Homo sapiens: one gene and its partners. The protein of the gene in region 2 interacts with the protein of the main gene of each other region in a biochemical or structural test. Each region holds a gene or a part of one and is shown on either strand. Other genes may lie near its edges.

What was found. Proteins that work in one complex are often made in the same cells at the same time.
Region 1: the proteins of PDS5B (region 2) and RAD51 form a complex in vitro, tested with the Homo sapiens proteins (one study listed by BioGRID).
Region 3: the proteins of PDS5B (region 2) and CDCA5 form a complex in vitro, tested with the Homo sapiens proteins (one study listed by BioGRID).

What each region holds. Positions count from the first base shown.
Region 1 is NC_000015.10:40,725,388-40,732,840, reverse strand, and holds the end of RAD51 (DNA repair protein RAD51 homolog 1), read right to left. Parts: intron 4,131-7,453; coding exon 4,017-4,130; intron 3,337-4,016; coding exon 3,207-3,336; intron 2,989-3,206; coding exon 2,867-2,988; intron 1,787-2,866; coding exon 1,663-1,786; 3' UTR 501-1,662; downstream 1-500.
Region 2 is NC_000013.11:32,581,644-32,590,252, forward strand, and holds the start of PDS5B (sister chromatid cohesion protein PDS5 homolog B), read left to right. Parts: upstream 1-4,808; 5' UTR 4,809-4,950; intron 4,951-5,625; exon of another isoform or gene 5,626-5,765; intron 5,766-8,609. UniProt on the Homo sapiens protein: Regulator of sister chromatid cohesion in mitosis which may stabilize cohesin complex association with chromatin. May couple sister chromatid cohesion during mitosis to DNA replication.
Region 3 is NC_000011.10:65,076,953-65,081,826, forward strand, and holds the end of CDCA5 (sororin), read right to left. Parts: intron 2,836-4,874; coding exon 2,401-2,835; intron 2,236-2,400; coding exon 2,155-2,235; 3' UTR 501-2,154; downstream 1-500. UniProt on the Homo sapiens protein: Regulator of sister chromatid cohesion in mitosis stabilizing cohesin complex association with chromatin. May antagonize the action of WAPL which stimulates cohesin dissociation from chromatin.

The sequences.
Region 1 (7,453 bases), on a different chromosome or scaffold from region 2:
GGTGGCACGTGCCTGTAATCCCAGCTACTCGGGAGTCTGAGGCAGGAGAATTGCTTGAACCTGGGAGGTGAAGGTTGTAGTGAGTTGTGCTACTGCACTCCAGCCTGGGCAACAGAGTGAGAGACGGTCTCAAAAAAGACTAGAACGGCTTTTAAAACAAAGCATTGTAGAGCTATGTGTGGTGGTTCGTGCCTGTAATCCCAACACTTTGGGAGGCCAAGGCCGGCAGATCACTGAGATCAGGCGTTCGAGACCAGTCTGGCCAACATGGTGAAACCCCATCTCGATTAAAAATACAAAAATCAGCAGGGCGTGGTGGCGGGCGCCTGTTGTCTCAGCTACTTGGGAGGCTGAGGCTGGAGAATTGCTTGAACCCAGGAGGTGGAGGTTGTGGTGAGCCGAGATCACGCCATTGCACTCCAGCCTGGGCAACAAGAATGAAACTCCATCTCAAAAACAAAAAAAAAAAAAAAAGGAAAGGGGGGCCACAAGGCAACCCATGGTATGTCTTTCTTTTATTTTTCCATTAGCTTTTAAGCACAATCATCTGCAAGTGGGACTTTCCTTTCTGGTTTCAAATCTTGAAGCAACAGAAACTGATCACCCCTATACAGTGCCAAAAAGATTATGGAAACCCTGTCTTGAAATAGCTTGCACTGCAATAATTGCTATAAACAGCACATTCACTACTAATAACTACTTTATTAGAAGCCTCACAATCAAATCTGTTTACTTACCCTCTGAAATGTTTCTTGTTTGAAACATGGTCTCACTCTGTCACCCTGGCTGGAATGCAGCAGTGCAATCTCGACTCACTGCAACTTCCACCTTCCAGGCTTAAGTGATTCTCCCACCTCAGGCTATCGAGTAGCTGGGACTACAGGCACGTGTAACAGTGTGTCCAGATTAAGTTCTGCATTTTTTGTAGAGATGGGATTTCACCACCTTGGCCAAGCTGGACTTAAAACTCCTGGGCTCAAGCGATCCACCTGCCTCGGCCTCCCAAAGTGCTGGGAGTACAGGCGCAAGACACCACACTGGCCTGAAATGCTTTAAGACTCTAGGATTATCTTGAGTTAGTCTTAGCAATGAAAGACCAAGCAGGTAGATGGTGAAGGGCTAATGGCCTAGTAGGTTTGGCACAAGACTCCATAACCAAAACCTTACACAAGATCATTCAGACAGACAACTTAAAAACCTGCTTGAGAGTTTTACTGACAGAAAAAAAGAATCTGTGCAGACCCATTCCCTTTGCTACATAGCTGAGGCATTTTATTTTACCATTAATTTAGAAGTGAGAGAAGGGTCAGGTCTCTCCAGCTTTAGTTCTCTTGGAAACATAAGATTGTCCAGTAGACAGCTTGTTAAACCCAAGTCATTCCTAAGGCACCATGTCAAAGATACTTCATACCCCTCCTCCAAAACCAAAGAAAACACACAGAGATTAATACACTACAGAAGGAATAAACATTTTAGATCAGTTTGTGACTACTGACCTGTCTCCTGTTTATACCATCAGAAAAGCTGATATAATAGCTGTTTTCCCGGAAGCTTTATCCTGGCAGTCACAACAGGAAGAGGCCTGTAGAGAACCCCAGGGAGCAGTGCACTCTCATTAGGCTGCAGCACTTAAGGTTTTTAACAGAGGAAAAACCCAATGATTCAGTCTTTGGCATCTCCCACTCCATCTGCATTAATGGCGAACATAGCTTCAGCTTCAGGAAGACAGGGAGAGTCGTAGATTTTGCAGATTCTGGTTTCCCCTCTTCCTTTCCTCAGATACAATCTGACCCAAAGACACAGACCAAAGCACCAATTTATTATAATTAAACAATTCCGTTCCTGACTTTGTAACAGAGCTGAAAATTTTTTAGACATATATTCTTCCTAGAAGGACCCTGGGAATGTTTCTGTACTGTTTTCCTTAGTGCATTTCCAACCTGGCAGAATCCATTTTTGCCCTGGCCCCTCTCAGTGGATTGTCCATATTGAAACAAACATTAAAAAAAGAAAAATTTAGGCCGGGCATGGTGGCTCACGCCTGTAATCCCAGCACTTTGGGAGGCTGAGTTGGGCAGATCACGAGGTCAGGAGATCGAGACCATCCTGGCTAACACTGTGAAACCCCATCTCTACTAAAAATACAAAAAAATTAGCCAGGTGTGGTGGCGGGTGCCTGTAGTCCCAGCTATTCGGGAGGCTGAGGCAGGAGAATGGTGTGAACCCGGGAGGCGGAGCTTGCAGTGAGCCGAGATCGTGCCACTGCACTCCAGCCTGGGTGACACAGCGAGACTCCATCTCAAAAAAAAAAAAAAAAAAAGAAAAAAAATTTTTTCAAGACAGTGTCCTGCTCTTTTGCCAGGCTGGAGTGCAGTGATGTGTGATCATAGCTCAATACAGCCTCGAATTCCTATGCTCAACTGATCCTCCTGCCTCAGTCTCCTGGGTAGCTAAGACTACAGGCACACGCCACCACACCAGCTACTTTTTTTTGTAGAGACAGAGGCCTCACTTTGTTGCCCTTACTAGTGTCGAATTCCTGGCCTCAAACCATCCTATCACCTTGGCCTCCCAAAGTGTTGGGATTACCAGTGTGAGCCACTGTGCCCAGCCCAAACATTTTTTAAATAACAGGGGAGAGGCATATCAATTACTCATATTCATTCTTCCACACTTGTGGGTTTTTAATTCTTTTATGAACTAAAACATCTATACCAACGAGAGCATGTTAATTAGATTAGCAAGAGTTCCTAAGTGTCTATACAACAGTAGCTTTAACAGGGCTTAAATGAAAATGTTATATCTTCATGTCTTCACAGTTAATATGACATTCCGAAAAGAAGAACTGATCCCATCAACACCTTACCTGGTTGTTGATGCATGGGCGATGATATTTCCTCCAATAGGTTTTTTGGGATCAGCAGCAAACATCGCTGCTCCATCCACTTGAGCTACCACCTGATTAGTGATTACCACTGCTACACCAAACTGATGGGGAAAGGATAAATGTCAATTTTGTGGCCATAGACACTCCAAAAGCCTTAATGCTGCCACCACTTTCCCCCACAAAATAACGAATAACTAATGTCTCTCTTCTTCCTAAGAGCTTGATGATCTCAGGCACTGATGTCTTAGCCTCCTAGCAAGGCTCCTGGAATTCACAGCCACTGAAAGTAGGCATTCTCTGTCCCTATCCCACAACTTACCTCATCAGCGAGTCGCAGAAGCATCCGCAGAAACCTGGCCAAGTGCATCTGCCTGGCTGAAAGCTCACCTCGACCCGAGTAGTCTGTTCTGTAAAGGGCGGTGGCACTGTCTACAATAAGCAGTGCATACCTACAGGAAACAAGGATTCTCTGAAGCCTATTTCTAGCCTGTGTCAGATTCTGGTCCCTTCCTTACCACCCTAAAATCTCATATTCATAGTTTTTCCTGTATACAGATTTTTTTTTTTTTTTTTTTTTTTTTGAGATGGAGTCTAGCTCTGTCGCCCAGGCTGGAGTGCAGTGGGGCATTCTTGGCTCACTGCAAGCTCTGCCTCCCGGGTTCACTCCATTCTCCTGCTTCAGCCTCCGGAGTAGCTGGGACTACAGGCGCCCGCCACCACACCCAGCTAATTTTTTTGTATTTTTTTAGTAGAGACGGATTCACCGTGTTAGCCAGGATGTTCTCGATCTCCTGACCTTGTGATCCACCCGCCTTGGCCTCCCAAAGTGCTGGGATTACAGGCTTGAGCCACCGCGCCCGGCCTGTATATAGATGTTTTATTAAAATATTTGCACAGTACTAACATCTGAGGCACCGTTTAACAAGATTTCCAGCAAGTTCAAGTAGATTATGGTTTCATTTTTAATAGTGACTTGACCTAAACTACAAAGCAAGAGTGTCAACACAGGAATTATACTTAAACCTCCTCATTTCTAATTCAAACTACTATCAATCTGGCCAAATAGCCATTACAAGATTCAGGGAAGGACTCTTAAGAACATATTTGGTGTCTTATACTGAACACATACCTAGATTCTACCATCATGGCTGATGCTTGATAAAGGAGCTGGGTCTGGTGGTCTGTGTTGAACGCTCGAGCATATGCTACATTATCCAGGACATCACTGCCAGAGAGACCATACCTATGAGAGAGGAGAGAACATTTTTAGGCTGCACACAGAACTCAGGCAGATGAGCAATTTGTTTCTGACACTTAAATTACCTGAATAGGTAGGGAAGAAGTGGTACTGACAGTAGTTTCAGGACCAAAGAATGTATTTCCCTTTCTATTAAGAAGTTCAGGCAAACTATAAGCAGAGAGATGATAGCACCCAACTACTCTGGAGCTCTACCTGGCAAGTCTTTGGGATAAATCAAATCCATTCTTTTTTTTTTTTCTTTGAGACGGAGTCTTGCTCTGTCACCCAGGCTGGAGTGCAGCGGCGTGATCTCATTGCAACCTCCACCTCCTGGGTTCACGCGATTCTCCTGCCTCAGCCTCCAAAGTAGCATGGAGCTATGCAGCACCATGCATAGCTAATATTTTTATTTTTAGTAGAGACAGGGTTTCACCATATTGATCAGGCTGGTCTTGACCTCCTGATCTCATAATCCGCCCACCTTGGCCTCCCAAAATACTGGGACTACAGGCGTGAGCCACCACGCCTGACCTAAATCAAACCTATTCTTTGAGGGCCAGGTGCGGTGGCTCACGCCTGTAATCCTAGCACTTTGGGATGCCGAGGCAGGTGGATCACCTGATGTCAGGAGTCGGAGACCAGCCTGGTCAACATGGCAAAACCCCATCTCTACTAAAAATACAAAAATTAGCCGGGCGTGGTGGCAGGCACCTGTAATCCCAGCTACTTGGGAGGCTGAGGCAGAAGAATCGCTTGAACCCGGGAGACAGAAGTTGCAGTGAGTCGAGATCATACCATTGCACACCAGACTGGGTGACAGAGTGAGATTCCATCTCAAAAAAAAAAAAAAAAAGAGAATGTTTACATAAAACCCAGTGTGCTATGATTATGTTCTAGGTTCACGATTCTGTCATGAGGATAAACAGATGGCATTAGGATAGAGTTACACCTTACGATCCTGACCAAATAAAACAAGAATGAAGAGATATAAGTTTTCTCTATTTAGATCATGAATGTATGGTGAAAAAAAAAAGATGTAACAGGTGTAAGTACTTTACTGCACAAGTCTTCTAGTTCTGCCTCAAGAAACACTGATATGGCTGGGCGCAGTGGCTCACACCTGTAATCCCAGCAATTTGGGAGGCTGATGTGGGCAGATCACTTGAGATCAGGAGTTTGAGACCAGCCTAGACTACATGGTGAAACACCATCTCTACTAAAAATACAAAATGTAGCCGGGTTGGTTGCAGGCGCCTGTAATCCCTGCTTCTCAGCTACTTGGGAGGCTGAGGCAGGAGAATCGCTTGAAACCGGGAGGCAGAGGTTGCAGTGAGCCGAGATCGCACCACTGCACTCCATCCTGGGTGACAGAGCAAGACTCTGTCTCAAAAACAAACAAACAAACGAACAAAAAAATACACTGATATAATCTACTATCAGAAAGGGAGAAAAGGCTGGGCACGGTGGCTCATGCTTGTAATCCCAGCACTCTGGGAGGCTGAGTGGGGAGGATTGCTTGAGCTCAGGAGTTTGAGACCAGCCTGGGCAACATGGCAAAACCCCATCTCTATTTATAAAATTAAAAAAAAATTAAAAATTAAAAAAGAAAGGGAGATTATCTATTTGCTATAAAAACAGAGAAGGTTTACCAGAATAAAGAGTTATCCTAGCTTTTCTCTCAGCGGCACTCACAAAAAAAACTATGGGAACCTCTGTGCTTAGGCTCCAGAAGCAGGACATGGAATTCCCACAGCTTGGGACAAGTTGGCTGGAAATACCATCCTCTTTTTTTTTTTTTTTTGAGACGGAGTCTCACTCTGTCGCCCAGGCTGGAGTGCAGTGGCACGATCTCGGCTCATTGCAAGTTCCGCCTCCCAGGTTCACGCCATTCTCCTGCCTCAGCCTCCCGAGTAGCTGGGACTACAGGCACCCGCTACCACGCCTGGCTAATTTTTTTATTTTTAGTAGAGACGGGGTTTCACCATGTTAGCCAGGATGGTCTCGATCTCCTGACCTTGTGATCCACCCGCCTCGGCCTCCCAAAGTGCTGGGATTACAGGCATGAGCCACCGCGCCCGGCCATAGCATCCTCTTTCATAGTGTTTCTTGAACTTCCTTAAAGATAATAACCTGGAACACCCGTTAGAAAACAAATTCCTGGGCAGGCTGTGGTGACTCATGCCTGTAATCTCAGCACCTTGGGAGGCCAAGGCAGGCGGATCACTTGAGGTCAGGAGTTCGAGACTAGCCTTGCCAACAAGGCGAAAACCCATCTCTACTTAAAAAATACAAAAATTAGATGGGTGTGGTGGTGCACGCATGTAATCCCAGGTACTTGGGAGGCTGAGGCAGGAGAATCGCTTGAACCCGAGAGGCGGAGGTTGCAGTGAGCCAATATCACGCCACTGTACTCCAGCCTGGCAGCCTGGGAGACAAGAGTGAAACTCCGTCTCAAAAAAAAAAAAAAAAAATTCCTGGGCCTAACCTAGACTCAATGAATTACAATTATCAGGGAAGAGCCTGGTAATCTGTATATTTAACAAATACCTCAGGTTATTCTTAACATATAAGTTTGAAAAACTAAGCTCATCTCAAAGGAGTTCTGTCATTCTTTCACAGTACTTCAGACTTTCAAGAAAGGCTAGCAATTGTGGTCATGGTTTTCAAACTTTAGCAAGCATCAGATTACCTGGAGAGCTTGCATTTTTTTTTGTTGTTTTGTTTTTTTGAGATGGAGTCTCACTCTGTCGCCCAGTCTGGAGTACAGTGGCACGATCCTGGCTCACTGCAACCTCCGCCTCCTGGGTTCAAGTGATTCTCCTGCCTCAGCCTCCCGAGTAGCTGGGATTACAGGTGCCCGCTAACATGCCCAGCTAGTTTTTGTATTTTTAGTAGAGCAGGGTTTCACCATGTTGCCACGCTGGTCTCAAACTCCTGACCTTAGGTGATCCACTCCCTTGGCCTCCCAAAGTGTTGGGATTACAGGCGTGAGCCACCGTGTCTGGCCCTGGAGAGCTTGTTAAAACAGGTTGCTAGCCCGAGTATCTGATTGTTTCTGATTCAGTAGATCTGAAGTCCCATCAGACAATTTGCATTTCTAACAAGTTCTCAAGTAATGATAATGCTGCTGTTCTGGGGACCATGTTCTGGGAACCCCAGAGCTACAGTAACATGCATGTGGGCTAATATTCTTCAACAGGGCACGGCAAAAATTAATCAGTAAGGGCTCTTTTGTTGTGAATGAAAGAGGGCTATTTTTATTAGCTTAAGGAGGCCTTGTGACATTCTCAGAAATATAATTCAATTATAAAATTTTTTTCTTGATA
Region 2 (8,609 bases):
CATCTTACACTGGAATGCTGATTTTTAAATTAAAAAAAAATTTTTTTTGAGACAGAATCTTGTTCTGTTGCCCAGGCTGGAGTGCCATGGTACGATCACTGCTTACTGGAACCTCTCCTCATCTCAAGTGATCCTCTCTCCTCAGCCTCCCGAGTAGCTGGAACTACAGGTGCATGCCACCATGCCCAGCTAACTATTTATTTTTTATAGAGGGAGGTCTTGCTATGTTGCCCAGGCTTGTCTCAAACTCCTGGGCTCAAGCTATCTGTCCACCTCAGCCTCCCAAAGTGCTGGGATTGCAGGAATGAGTCACCATGCCCGGCCTGTAGATTTTTCAAATAGCGCAAAAGTAAATAACATTGATTAGTGATTGCATGTGAATATATGTGAAACATATTATATTGAAGGAATTTATACGCCTTTGCACAAATATTCAAAGCAGCAGTCTAAATTCTCCTTTGTCATTCTCCTTACTTTTCAAGTGAAATTGCTCTTGGTTCTATATCTCTTTATTATTTCCAGAAGTTGAACTGATGATAAATGCTTTCTTAAACCCAAATCTCTCTTTGGATGATAATGCAAGCTACGATATTTTGTGTAAAAATTTCTGACATCTATCTTTGGAACTCTTTAAAAAAGTTAGATGTATCAAACATATTCCAATATAGTTTCTGAAGATCTAGTTTACAGAAATTTCCCAGATGATTTTGGTATTCTTCCACTCCACTCGAGTTAAGAACAGCTGCCCTGGGACTGTAGATGAATGTGGCATCCTTTCAGGAATATTTGCATTGTAAAGAGGATCACAGGATGGGCACAGTGCCTCATGCAGGGGATTAATTGTGGAGGGAGAAATTTGAGGCACCAGGGGCTGAGTCTTGGATGAGGGTGAAGGAAAAGAGCCCGTATACCATCTTTCAGCAGTAGTGATGTCATGAATGAAGGATCAACTTCAGGGGCTTGGAGTTTATCAAAATGCCTCACCAGTTTGCCTAATGCCTAAAATATCACAAAGCTAATTTCTGTTGGGCTTAGTTTCTCCTAATGGATATGAATGGGTTAGTGTTTTTTTTTTTTTTTTTTTTGAGATGGAGTCTCGCTCGGTTGTCTAGGCTGGAGTGCAGTGGTGCGATCTCCGCTCACTGCAACCTCCCCCTACCGGGTTCAAGCAATTCTCTGCCTCAGGCTCCCAAGTAGCTGGGATTACAGGCACCTGCCACCACACCTGGCTAATTTTTGTATTTTTAGTAGAGACGGGGTTTCGCCATCTTGGCCAGGCTGGTCCTGAACTCCTGACCTCGTGATCCACCTGCCTTGGCCTCCCAAAGTGCTGGATTACAGGCGTGAGCCACCGAGCCCTGCCTAACTTTTTCAAGTAACACAACCACATTCCAACATGTTTTCTGAGAATCCAATGCCTTAACCCAATAAATTAGTCTAGTGGGAATTTCAGCACTGTTGCAGGCTAACAGGGATCATATTTTTGTCTTGACTAGCCTTTGGGACATACCTTGAATTATGCTGAACCGGTAATGTTTGTCTAGGTAGGGCCCAGTCTTATCATTTACTAATTAGCTGCCCAGTGTGCTCTACTATGTATAATATGATAAACATTTCACCATATTTTGGAAACCATGCTGTAGTGCAGCAAGGCTGTACTCAAAATGCAGTAGGGGCCATAGGGGTATATTTAGGACTGTCCAGGTTAATTGTGTGCATTCCTGATGTCTTTCAACTTGCTAACCTCTTTAACCTCAAATTTGGACTCTATTAAAAAAAGCCCAGGTAACTCAAATATGAGTGATGTGGCAGACTGAATAATGGTCCCCTTACAATATCCATGTCGTAATCCCCAAACCTTTGAATATGTTATGTTACATGGCAAAGGGGAATAAAGGTCACTAATCAATGGACCTTAAATTAGAGATTATCCAAGTGGGCCCAATATAATCACAAGAGTATTAAAAGTGGATGAGGGAGTCAGAGGAAGAGCTGCGGTGACAAAAGCAGGTCAGAGAGACGCCATGGAGCTGGCTTTGCGGATGGAGGAAGGAGGATATGAACCAAGGGATCTGGGCAGCCTCTGGAAGAAGGAAATAGTAAGAAAAGGGATTCTCCTTTGGAGCCTCCAGAAAGACACACAGCCCTGACAACACCTTGATTTTAGCCCAGCGAGATACCTGTCAAACTTCTGCACTCCAGTAAGACAATAAGTTTGTGCTCTTTTAAGCCACCAACTTTGTGATGATTTGTTATAGTGACAAAGTAAAATTAGTAGAGGTGGGAACTACATTTGTGGTTATTCATAATCAAAGACAATTCTCCTAACCATTTCTGTATAAAACCAGCATTTGGACATAATTCCCACATAATTTCTCTTTCTTGGTGTAGAAAGCATTCACAACTGAGTTTTGAATGGTTCACACTCTTAAACTGTCTTAAACAATGTTGTGTTATGTTGCTCCTAATGAATTGCAACTTGGCTATTTTTAAAAATCCCAAACACAGAAGATTATTTTTGTTCAAATATCAACTTTAGATTTTAGTTTTCCCAAACAATATTGTTTTAAATGAAGGTTTATATTACTGATTTCTGTAAAGCCACTTGCAGTCATATAAAAGTATGCCCTTTTGTTAGAAACTATGCCTCATTAAAGCTTTAGGGTTTTTCCTCTGTCTGTCCTAATGGTAATTGCCCCATTGACCCTTACAATGTAGCTATTTTGAAGGCTATCTCCTTTCTGCCCACTCTTTTCTTGGGCTTAATCCTGTGGTGTTAGCAGCCTAACGTGGGCAATATGTATTCCGGGCCTCATTGAAATTCAAGGCATCATTTTATAAGAGAGAGGGTTAATGGTGAAACTGGCAAAACTGCTCACAAAGTTGACGTGACACCTTCAGCCCTTTCAGGACTCACTGCCATATACAAGATGTAGAGTGACATTCTTAAACAATTCATACATCCAACAAAATATTTACTGAGGCTTCCAGGTGTCAAATAATGGGGATAAGAGCACTGAATAATTTATACAAAAACTCTTAGCCGGGCATGGTGGCTCACGCCTGTAATCCTAGCACTTTGGGAGGCTGAGGCAGGCAGATCACGAGGTCAGGAGATCGAGACCATCCTGGCCAACATGGTGAAACTCTGTCTCTACTAAGAATTACAAAAAATTAGCTGAGAGTGGTGGTGTGTGCCTGTAGTCCCAGCTGCTTGGGAGGCTGAGGCAGGGGAATTGCGTGAACTCAAGAGGGAGGTTGCAGCGAGCCAAGATCGCGCCACTGCACTCCAGCTTGGCGACAGATCAAGACTCCATCTCAAAAAAAAAAAAAAAAAAAAGAAAGAAAAAAGAAAAAAAAATTCTTGCTTTCATCCTGGCTTTCTTCTGAAACTTTCTGGCTTCCTGGCTTTGGAGGTTTGGGAATTGAAGAAAATAAAGTAAAAAACATAATAAAAACAACCAAAGAGGAAAGGTTTTTCTAGATCTAGACATCCTACTCTCCCATACAAGATTTATGTTGATGGAACAACGATGTAAAATAAGAAAATTCCTGAGATAATTTTAAAAAGAGGGCAGAAAAAACTCATAGTAGACTTCATCGAGGAATGTATAAAATGGGTAGAACCTGGAGTATTCAGTGGCAAAATCTTGGACACAGGAATACAGTAACACAACATATTGGTCTAGCAAGCACTGGAGGAGACTGAGGCGGAATTGTCCAGCGAATCCCACAAAAATGGAAATGAAGAGGTCTCAGTATCTCTAGGTGCCCGGGTCCGATGGAATACCGATGTACATACCTTTTCTAACACAGTAGCATTAGTTTATATATCAGCATTACCTCTCTTTTGTTTCAGTTGATAAGTATCCTACTGTAATCCATTCATTCACACTTTGCTTGTTCATTGTTGAAACAAATTCTCCCTGGAACAAAATTCTAGTAACCAAATACATCATATCAGGGGAAACTTCCTTACAGCAGGGATGGTATTAAAGTAAAAAGAGGAGGAAGTCCCTTCTTCAGCTCTGGCAGGGACCCGGCTGGGGAGGAAACCTTCCCGCAAGGTAGGTGATCTGCTGTGGTGACCAGGCTAAACCCACTCTACAGCTGCAGGAGGGACTGGCATCCCTTAGAGGTGAAGAGGGGAGGAGACCCACCTCCTGGAATGTGTCCCTGTGGTCTCCAGATGATTTCTTCCTCTAATAAGGACAATTCTGCCAAAGGAATGGAATGCTTCGTCACAGGCTCAATTACTCTGTCTCCGCCAGCCTACCACCTATAAACAATTCCTCAAATTAGGAAAGCGGGGAGATTTAATAAAGACATAACACGTAAAGTGTAGGAAAACTATTTGTATGGCATTCCGAGACGACTAGGTCAGAGTTAACAAGTAAGGAGCAAAGTAGTTAATAATACCAATTCTGTTTACCCATCACAACACCTGTGCTGAATGTCAGGGTTTAAAAAAATCTCCCAACCTTTATCTAAAAAGATAGGGCTACGTAACAATCGGTGTGGTTTTTGTCGGTAGAGGTCTAGGAAGCCGCAAGAGTAGTGGACGCCTTGACAGCTGCCCTTCTCGCGGGCCCCGCGGCGGCGTGCCCGTGTGGTTGCGTGCGCGCGGACGGGGCGGGGCTGAGGAGGGACGTGCGCGCGCGCGGACGGGGCGGGGTGGAGCTCGGAGGGCGGACGCGCTCGGGGCCGTCTGGTCGGCAGGGGGCGCTGCGCACCCATGCCGCGCTCTGCCTGCCCCCGGGTGCTGTCCGCGGCGGTTCGATTGGAGCAGCCGCCGAAGAGCGCTTGGCGCCATTTTGAAGCGGAGAGGAGGAGGAACGGCAGGGCTGGCTGCGGAAGGGGAGGGGGGGGGAGAAGGCGATTGGATGCGGCGGCGGCGGCGGATCCCGGAGAGCCCCGGAGTGAGCGGAGTAGCGAGTCGGCAACCCGGAGGTAGGAAACAATTCAGTTAACGGAAAGAAAATGTCTCTCTTCTCTGGCTGCGGCGCTCCATTTTTCAGCGGCCGCCACTGCCGCTGTGTGCGTGTGTGTGGCAGGGCTGAAGCGCCGCCCGCCTGGGTGCCAGGCGCGACTCGCCTCCCGGCATCGGGGGCTGCAGCGGGTGGCTGCCTGGCGGTGGCCCGGGGCGGGGGTCGCGGGGCGCGGGCCGGCTGCGCGGTGGGGGTGGGGAGGGCCCCGCGGCCGGCGCGCGCCTCCACGCCGCGGGTTCTGCCGCAGCCTCTGGAAAATTAAACTTGCCGCTCTGATCCCGGCCGGGGCGGCGGCGGCGGCGGGCGGTGACCTTGCGCGCGGGCGGGGGTCTCGGGGCCGCCCGGCCGCCCGCGCCCTCCCGCCGCCGCCGTCGCCGCCGCCGCGCCCCTCCCCCCGCGCCCCGGCCGGCCGGCGGCTGTTTCCCGGGCGGCAGGCGGGCGGCGCGGTGCTCCTGTTGAATCCTCCCGCGGGCGGGCTTCTCCCCCTTCCGGGCGAGGGGCGGGCGGGGACCGCGGGTCGGGGCCGCGGGCGCTCTCGCCCCCGCCGCCGGGTCCCCGCGCGCCGCCTGGCCTCCGCTTCGGGCCAGGGGACGGGCTGAGCGTGACATTTTTGCACTGTCCCTCGCCGCTCGCCGGAGGGAAATCGCGCTCACCGCGCCACCCCGAGTGGTCCCCGAGCAGCCAGTTGAGGAAGAGCCCAGCACTGGCGTGGAGGGACTCCTCCCAGGCCACAACTGGGTTCTAGCTTTCCTTTCAGAAGGAACGGCGGGGAAAATGGTGTGCAATTGTGACTCGTTATTGTTTTTACACTGTTATTTTAATGTTACTTTAAAAGTTTTCGGTCCGGAGAAAAACCTTGTTTGTTGTTGTTGCTGCTACTGCTGTTGGTTTTTGGTAGAGACGTGAAAGCTAACTCTTAAGTAGCTCGACAGTTATTTTGGACGAATGACTGAAACCAGAAACGCCGCCCCTCGCCTTCGGAGCTGCAGGCTGCTGCGTTCCTTGCCGCGGACGGGGCGAGCTCCGGGAAGGGTTGGTAGAGCAGCTACCCACCCACTCCACGCGCGTCTTCAACAGCCTCTCTCCCCCAGCGAGGGTTAACCCTTTTTTATGTCGAAGAAAGTGCTTCTCGTACTTTTAATAAGAGGTGATGGATGGGCAGTGGTGCCCAGACTGATCCTACCCTGTTGATGAAATAGTTTCGAAAACTTTGGGTATAGCCTTAATTTAGAGGGTTGGTCTGCGGTGTGGAGAGAGTTGGGTAATCCTATACTATCTTCCTAATGAACTTCAAAAACTCAAGTTGTGTTTACATACAGGAGGCGAGCTGTAAATAAATCGTAATTACCCAATGCTTGAACGGCAGTATAGTCATTGTTCTCAGTTAACACATCCCGAGTTCCCAGACAGAACGTTTTTTATATTAACTCATGTAGTGGTCAGGTAAAGTAATTAAAAGCCACAAATATGGACTTGAAAGACAGCTCTTCATGCAGTACACATGTCTGAGATGTTCGCATCTTTAGGGACAATAAAATGAGTATTCAATGGTGTATGCAGGTCAGTTCGTGCAACAATTAATCTTGTATCTCATGGTGATAGCAGAAAACCTAATTAAAATTTGTAGTGCTGAATATGTAGGTGAAAATTACATGGGAACTTTTATGTGAAGATAGATTTAGTCTCAGAAACTTAACTGTAAAAACACATCTTAAGAACATTATTCCTTATAAATAAAATTTGTACTTAATATACATTTACAAATATGTCTAACAAGATGCACTTTAGACTTTATAAAAATTACCAAAATAGTGACTTTTTCCTCCTTTTTCTGATGGTTTTAAAAATTGTTCTCTTCTCAGCTGGCGTTTACTTAAAGGTATATTTTAAATGGGAAGGTAGTGTTTGTCTTGGCCTTTTTTCTTTTTTTCTTTTCTCCTTGTTTCGGTTAAGGCTGATTTTCCCTATATTAACTTTTCTTTTACAGCAGCTTTTGTTACTCTTGTAGGCTTTGTTCTCTCGTGTTATGTCTCTCCCCTCTCCCCATATTAGAGAGAGATGTGGTGATGATAGTGATTGTTGTTAGGAGATGTTTGTATTAAGCTTATTTGTAATAAGATTCTACCGAGTTGGCTGTTGGATGAAAGTTGTTTAAATTGTTCTGCAGCTTTGTTTAACGAAGTAACATTTTGAGCAGTAGGCTTTATCAATAATTTGTTAGGCCTAAGATAAAGTGATACTCTGTATTAGGCAGGGCTTGCCCTGGAGAGGGGTGCAATGGTAGAAAATACCCAAAACTTTGTGGGGAAGGAATATTTCGGGAAGCTGTATTCTTTCTGCTTTACCTCTTGGGAAATTTAGAGACTGCCTTAGAACTAACAGGAGTGCTCAGTATGATTTGGCATACGGACTCTTGAATGACATGGACTGTATATAACGTATATTGGAAAAGAATACATTTGTGTTTCCTCTGTTAGTGTTAAAGAGCAACAAGAAAACTTAAGGATGATCTCCAACTCACTTATACATGAGAAATTAGGTTCAGATTTTAATTTCATTGATTTATCTGAGGTCACAGTCATATTCATGTGGTGGAACTGGGGCAGCCCTTAAGATATCCTGGAAGCTTAGAAGTTTCCCCATTGTCTTTTTTTGTTCTATTCAGGATTTAGCAATATTTATTAATAAAAATTCAGGGTAGTACATTACCCTCCATCCCCTTCTCACCTTTTTATTCATTTAACCAAGAATAAAGTTTTGTGGTTAGCCGTCTGTTTCAGCGTCTGGTTTTTAATAATTTCTGTTTAGGATTCAGTCCATTTAGGTTGTCTCAGAAGATAGCCTCTTGTAGGTCTCTGTCTCCGGGAGCCGTCTTTCTTTATGTAACATTACTTGACATGGCATTTATTTATTCTTTGTGAAACTTCTAAGAGTAATTTGGGAAAGTTAGTATTGACCTTTGTTTTGTTACAAGATATAGTGCGTGCATGAGTATGCGTGTATTTTTTCATTTTTAAACTCAGTTTGCTACACAAGTCATCTGTCACTTCTAGTTACAATAGGCGTTTTACTTGGTTTTCGTATTCCTGTTCGGGAATGTTAAAGATTCCAAAAATACTTAGTTTAAAAACAAGCCCAGTAGTTTCTCTGAGAGTGTATTTACTTTTTAAGAAGCTGCCAAATGGTTCGCAATTCTGACTCCTTGGAGAGTAGAGGTAAGAAGCCCTTTCCTCACACTGTTCTGTTACAACCACTTGATTCTAACCATTTCCCCCATTACTTGAAAAAGGTTTTAGAATCCTTTCTCATTAATTAGTTCAGAATTAAGAATAAATTTGCTGTGTTGAGACTGTAATTGTTTTAGCTGGCATGAGTGATCGTGCACAGTGAAAAAATCATGATAATAAAACTTAGATGAATAAAATTTATTTGTTCAAATCTTAAAGCCTTTGAGGTTTAAAAAGTATAATCATTGTGTTCTAATAATTAGACATTAATAATAAGTAGTAATTAAAAATACTTGGTTTAGCTATGTAAAACATAAAAGCTAACAGGCTTGGGGGAAAGACTGATTAAAGTAAGAAACTATTTTGAGGCATCTTTTTAAGGACTAAAAGTATT
Region 3 (4,874 bases), on a different chromosome or scaffold from region 2:
AAGAGGAGCAGACTGGGGACTGGACAGAAATAAACAAGACACGGGGCAGGACAGGCCAGGCGCAGTGGCTCACGCCTGTAATCCCAACACTTTGGGAGGCCGAGGAGGGCAGATCACTTGAGGTCAGAGTTCAAGACCAGCCTGGCCAACATGGTGAAACCTCATCTCTAATAAAAATATAAAAATTAGCCAGGCGTGGTGGTGGGCACCTGTAACCCCAGCTACTTGGGAGGCTGAGGCAGGAGAATCGCTTGAACCTGGGAGGCAGAGGTTGCAGTCAACTGAGATCACGCCACTGGACTCCAGCCTGGGAGACAGAGCTAGACTCTGTCTCAAAGAAAAAAAAAAGTGTGTGGGGCACAGTGATCTACCATGGGGCGAATGCGGGGAAGCGGGGCTGGGAGCGCCTGGACAAAGGGACAACCCCAGTGATGCAGCCCACTGGAGGCCTGGCCTTACCTTCGGCTCTGCCTTTGACTCAATAAAAGAAACACAGTCCATGAACAGGCAGAAACTCTTTAATCAGGCTTTTTTTCCAACTCTAAAACAAAATCCCATTTTTTCCTTAAATTTAGTTCCTCAGGAACAGAGAACTTTGCAATGATGATCTCAACTCTGCATCATCTGGTGACTCCTGATTCTGCAGGACTAAGACATTTCCCAAGAGTTCTGCTGCATCAGCCAGTGAGGACAAGAGTTCTTCAGTGCGGTTCAGCTCAAGGACACCTAGGCTTCCCCAGCAGGGGGCTTGCTTGCAGGTCTGACAAACCACAGAGCGTTGAGCAGATGGCCTGGGACTCCCAGACCTGGCAGAGGGTTTTATTAGGGCCCGCCTGGCCTGCACCGTTTCATCCAAGTACCCTGACCCAGCACTCATCTTCCCTGGCATTCTCTGTTATCCACCAGCTCCTCTGCACACCTCAGCGTCTACTTCCACGAACTTCTAAACATCAAAAGGTACAATGGCCAGGGGTGCGGCAGGAGAGTCGGGGGCAGGGCAGCCTTCAAATCCACACTATTGAATCCACACGATGGAAAGAAGAGAAAGATGGGGAAATTCTCCAGAGATCATGAGATGCATCCAGGCAGTGTTCTCATGTGAGAGGATAGGGAGGCCAAAAACTAAAATTGCTATCAGCCCCCGCCGCTGTCTGGTACGCGAGGAAACTTTCCGAGGACTTTACAAGCATAGTTGCAAAATGCTAGTAGGTCTGGGACTCTTCAACTTTCTCTTCTAGGGCCAAGTAGACTCGGTGTAACTTATTTTGTAAGAAATGGGTATGGGTGACAAGAGGGGCCACCTTCCACCCCTGCAGCAGAGTGGTAAGACTCCAGCGTGGGCCCTGTGCAAGGGACCAGCCCAGAGGCCATGAGCCACAGAAACTCACAGCACCTGGTGGCCACACCCTGAAATGCACCCTTTGCTCCAAGCAGCCAGCGCCCTATCAACCTGGCATTTACCAAACATCTCAACAGCAGACCAGAACTAGAAAACACAGCTTCTGTGTAGTACACACTTATGGTCTGAGACCCAACTAAGGCTCCCTACATCCTTCAAAACTCAGACTCCACAGGCTGAATGTCCAGCTTCTTCCTCCAAGACAGAATTGCCCTCAGCCCACGAATTCTCTCTGGGACTATTTACAGAATCAAAGGGGAAACCCACGGAACTGAAAACCTCTTTACACAGGTGGGTTCAAGAAGAAAGCCACCAACAGAAGGCAACTCAGGAGGGAGAGGCCGAGGCTGGCAGAGCCCCTGGGCCTATTTCCAAGCAGCCACCCCTCCCAACAAGAGCAGAGGTGCCTCTCACCTCAACCCTCAGCCCTTTAACTTCTGGCTGGGCCACTGATTCTCCTCCCCAGTCTGTGGCCCATCTGGAAACTGGCTATGGTACTTTGGGGAGATAGGAAGGACAGGACGACAAGAGACAGGACACCAGTGAGTGGCTGGGCCAGGCGGCCCCATTTCCTAAAACCAAGATGGCTGCCGCTGCTGCCCAAGCCCTCAAAGGCAGACAGTCCTCATGCGCAGCACCAGCACACACACAGGTAACAAGACCAGGGGAGGGGACCCTAAGTGTCCTCTCCACAGGGAGGTGGCTATGTACAGGACAGGAGGGAGAGTCTGGCCAGGTGCACCCCCCACTGCATCTCATTCAACCAGGAGATCAAACTGCTCAGCAGCTTCAAACTCGGCATTCATGGCCGCAGCCCACTCATCCAGCTCCGTTTTCTGAGGGAAGAGAAATGAGGAGCAGGTGAGTGAGAAGGGAACATGGTGGCTGGAGCATCTCACCCACACCCTGCAGGTGCTGCCTATCCCCCAAAAGAGCCAGAGCCCCAGCCCTGCACGTCTCCCAGAGCACACGGCAGAGAAAAACCCCTGCCTCTCACTCACCAAGATCTCTGGCATTTTCTTCTTCTTACGTTTCTGTTTCTCGGGTGGTGGGGAGATTCCAGGGAGAGTCATGTCTGGGGCCCAGGGCTTTGCACAAACCCTGGGGACCTCGGTGAGTTTGGAGCACACCACTGGCGAGACTCCGGACAAGTCTTCTGCCCCCAGCAGCCCCTCGAAGCCAAAGCAGGACCGGCGGCCTGGGGTGGAGGTAGAGGCAGAGCCCAGGGTCTCCAGCCGGCTGTAGGAACGCCTGACTTTCTTAGACATTTCCAAGTCTCTGGCGTCCAGCTCTCCTTCCTTGGAGCTGGACTCGGCCTCAGGGTTCGGCACAGGAGTGCTGGTGGGGGTGGCAGGGACGCTGTGTGTCTTGAAAAGGTCCTCCTTAGTAAGCTCCCTGCCAGGGGGCTCGTTTTCTTTCTCCAAGAAAAAGGAAATCTGCACCAGGACAGAAGAGGGGATGCCCTCAATACTTAGCTGGACTGCTTACTTCCAGAAAAGCCCGAGAAGATTCAGGGTGGAAAGACCCACAGGACACACACTTTTTTTTTTTTTTTTTGAGACGGAGTCTTGCTCTCTCGCCCAGGCTGGAGTGCAGTGGCATGATCTCGGCTCACTGCAAGCTCCGCCTCCCGGGTTCACGCCATTCTCCTGCCTCAGCCTTCCGAGTAGCTGGGACTACAGGCGCCCGCCACCTCGCCCGGCTAATTTTTTGTATTTTTAGTAGAGACGGGGTTTCACCGTGTTAGCCAGGAGGGTCTCGATTTCCTGACCTCGTGATCCGCCCGCCTCGGCCTCCCAAAGTGCTGGGATTACAGGCGTGAGCCACCATGCCCGGCCAACACACACTTTTTTTAAGGAAGGGACAAATCAGACCCTGAAAGAGACATGGAGAGAAGAAAACAACCCACCATTGCTTCCAAGGAGTCTGCTTTTGTGACACAAATGGACTTGCCCCCATCTGCTGGTGCTGTCGCTTGTTTCCAAAATGTGCCCAGCATCCAGCCTCTCCTCTGACCAACTCAAGCCCTCATTAGGTGTCTTCTAGACCAGCTCAGCAACGTTTTTTGTTTTGTTTCCAGATAAACGGTCTCAACTCTGTTGCCCAGGCTGGAGTGCAGTGGCACGATCATGGCTCACTGAAGCCTCAGCCTCCAGGGCTCACGCAATCCTCCTACCTCAGCCTCTGAGTAGCCGGGACTACAGGCATGTGACACTCTGTCTGGCTGATTTTTTTTTAGTTTCTTTGTAGAGTAGGGGAGGTCTCCCTTTGTTGCCCAGGCTGGTCCCAGCGACCTTCTGATTTCTCTCCCTGTTTCCACCCTTGCCTGCTGTGGTCCATCTGCCACACAGCTGATGAGGATTGTCCTAAATGTCCACTCAGTCCATAAGTATTTATCAGTCACCTGTCCTGTGCCAGGCACTGGGAACACAGCAGGGAATAAAACAGAGAAAACCCCTGCCCCATTCTAAGAGAAAAACAGGTAAGAAAATTCAGTATTATGTTAGCAGTATCAAGCACTACAGGAAAACAGAACAGGAGAGAGTGCTTGGGGCAGGTTAGAATTGCAAAAAGATAAAGGTCAATACATCCCTCACTGAGGTGACATTCAAGCTACAACTTGAAGGAGGTGTGGGAGTGACTCATGGCCAAGTTCTAGGCAGTGGGAACAGAAGGTGCAACAACCCTGAGGCCACAGTGTACTAGTCAGGGTCAAACAACAAGGAGGCCAGTGTGGCTGAAGTGAAGGCAAGAGGAAGAAACTGAAGATGAAGTTCAAGAGATAATGGGTGGCCAGATATGGTGGTTCACACCTATAATCCCAGCACTTTGGGAGGCTGAGGTGGGTGGATCACCTGAGGTCAGGAGTTTGAGACCAGCCTGGCCAACATAGTGAAACCCCATCTCTACTGAAAATACAAAAAAAATTAGCCAGGTGTGGTAGCAGGTGCCTGTAAGCCCAGCTACTTGGGAGGCTGAGGCAGGAGAATCGGTTGAACCTGGGAGGCGGAGGTTGCAGTGAGCCGAGATTGCGCCACTGCACTCCAGCCTGGGTGACAGTGCGAGACTCCATCTCAAAAAAAAAAAACACAGGGAAGCTGAACAAATTGGTGGTCACTGCTGACTACGACTTCCTCATTCTCTATAGCCAAGCAGTCACCCAGGTCCTGGCAACTTTATCCTGCTCGATGTACCATGAATCTCAGTCAATCAACAAGAATGAGTGGCTACTAGGAAAGGCAGAAGTCCCTACCCTCAAGGTGCCTGTGTTCTTAGAGGGGGGAGAGAAAGACATCAAACATGCAAGAAAATACACTATAAGAACTGATAAGGACCAGGCACAGTGGCTCATGCCTGTAATCCCAACACTTTAGGAGGCCAAGGTGGGAGGATCACTTGAGCCCAGGAGTTCAAGACCGGCCTGGGCAACATAGTGAACCCTCATCTCTATAAAAAAAATTAGAGAAAACATCAA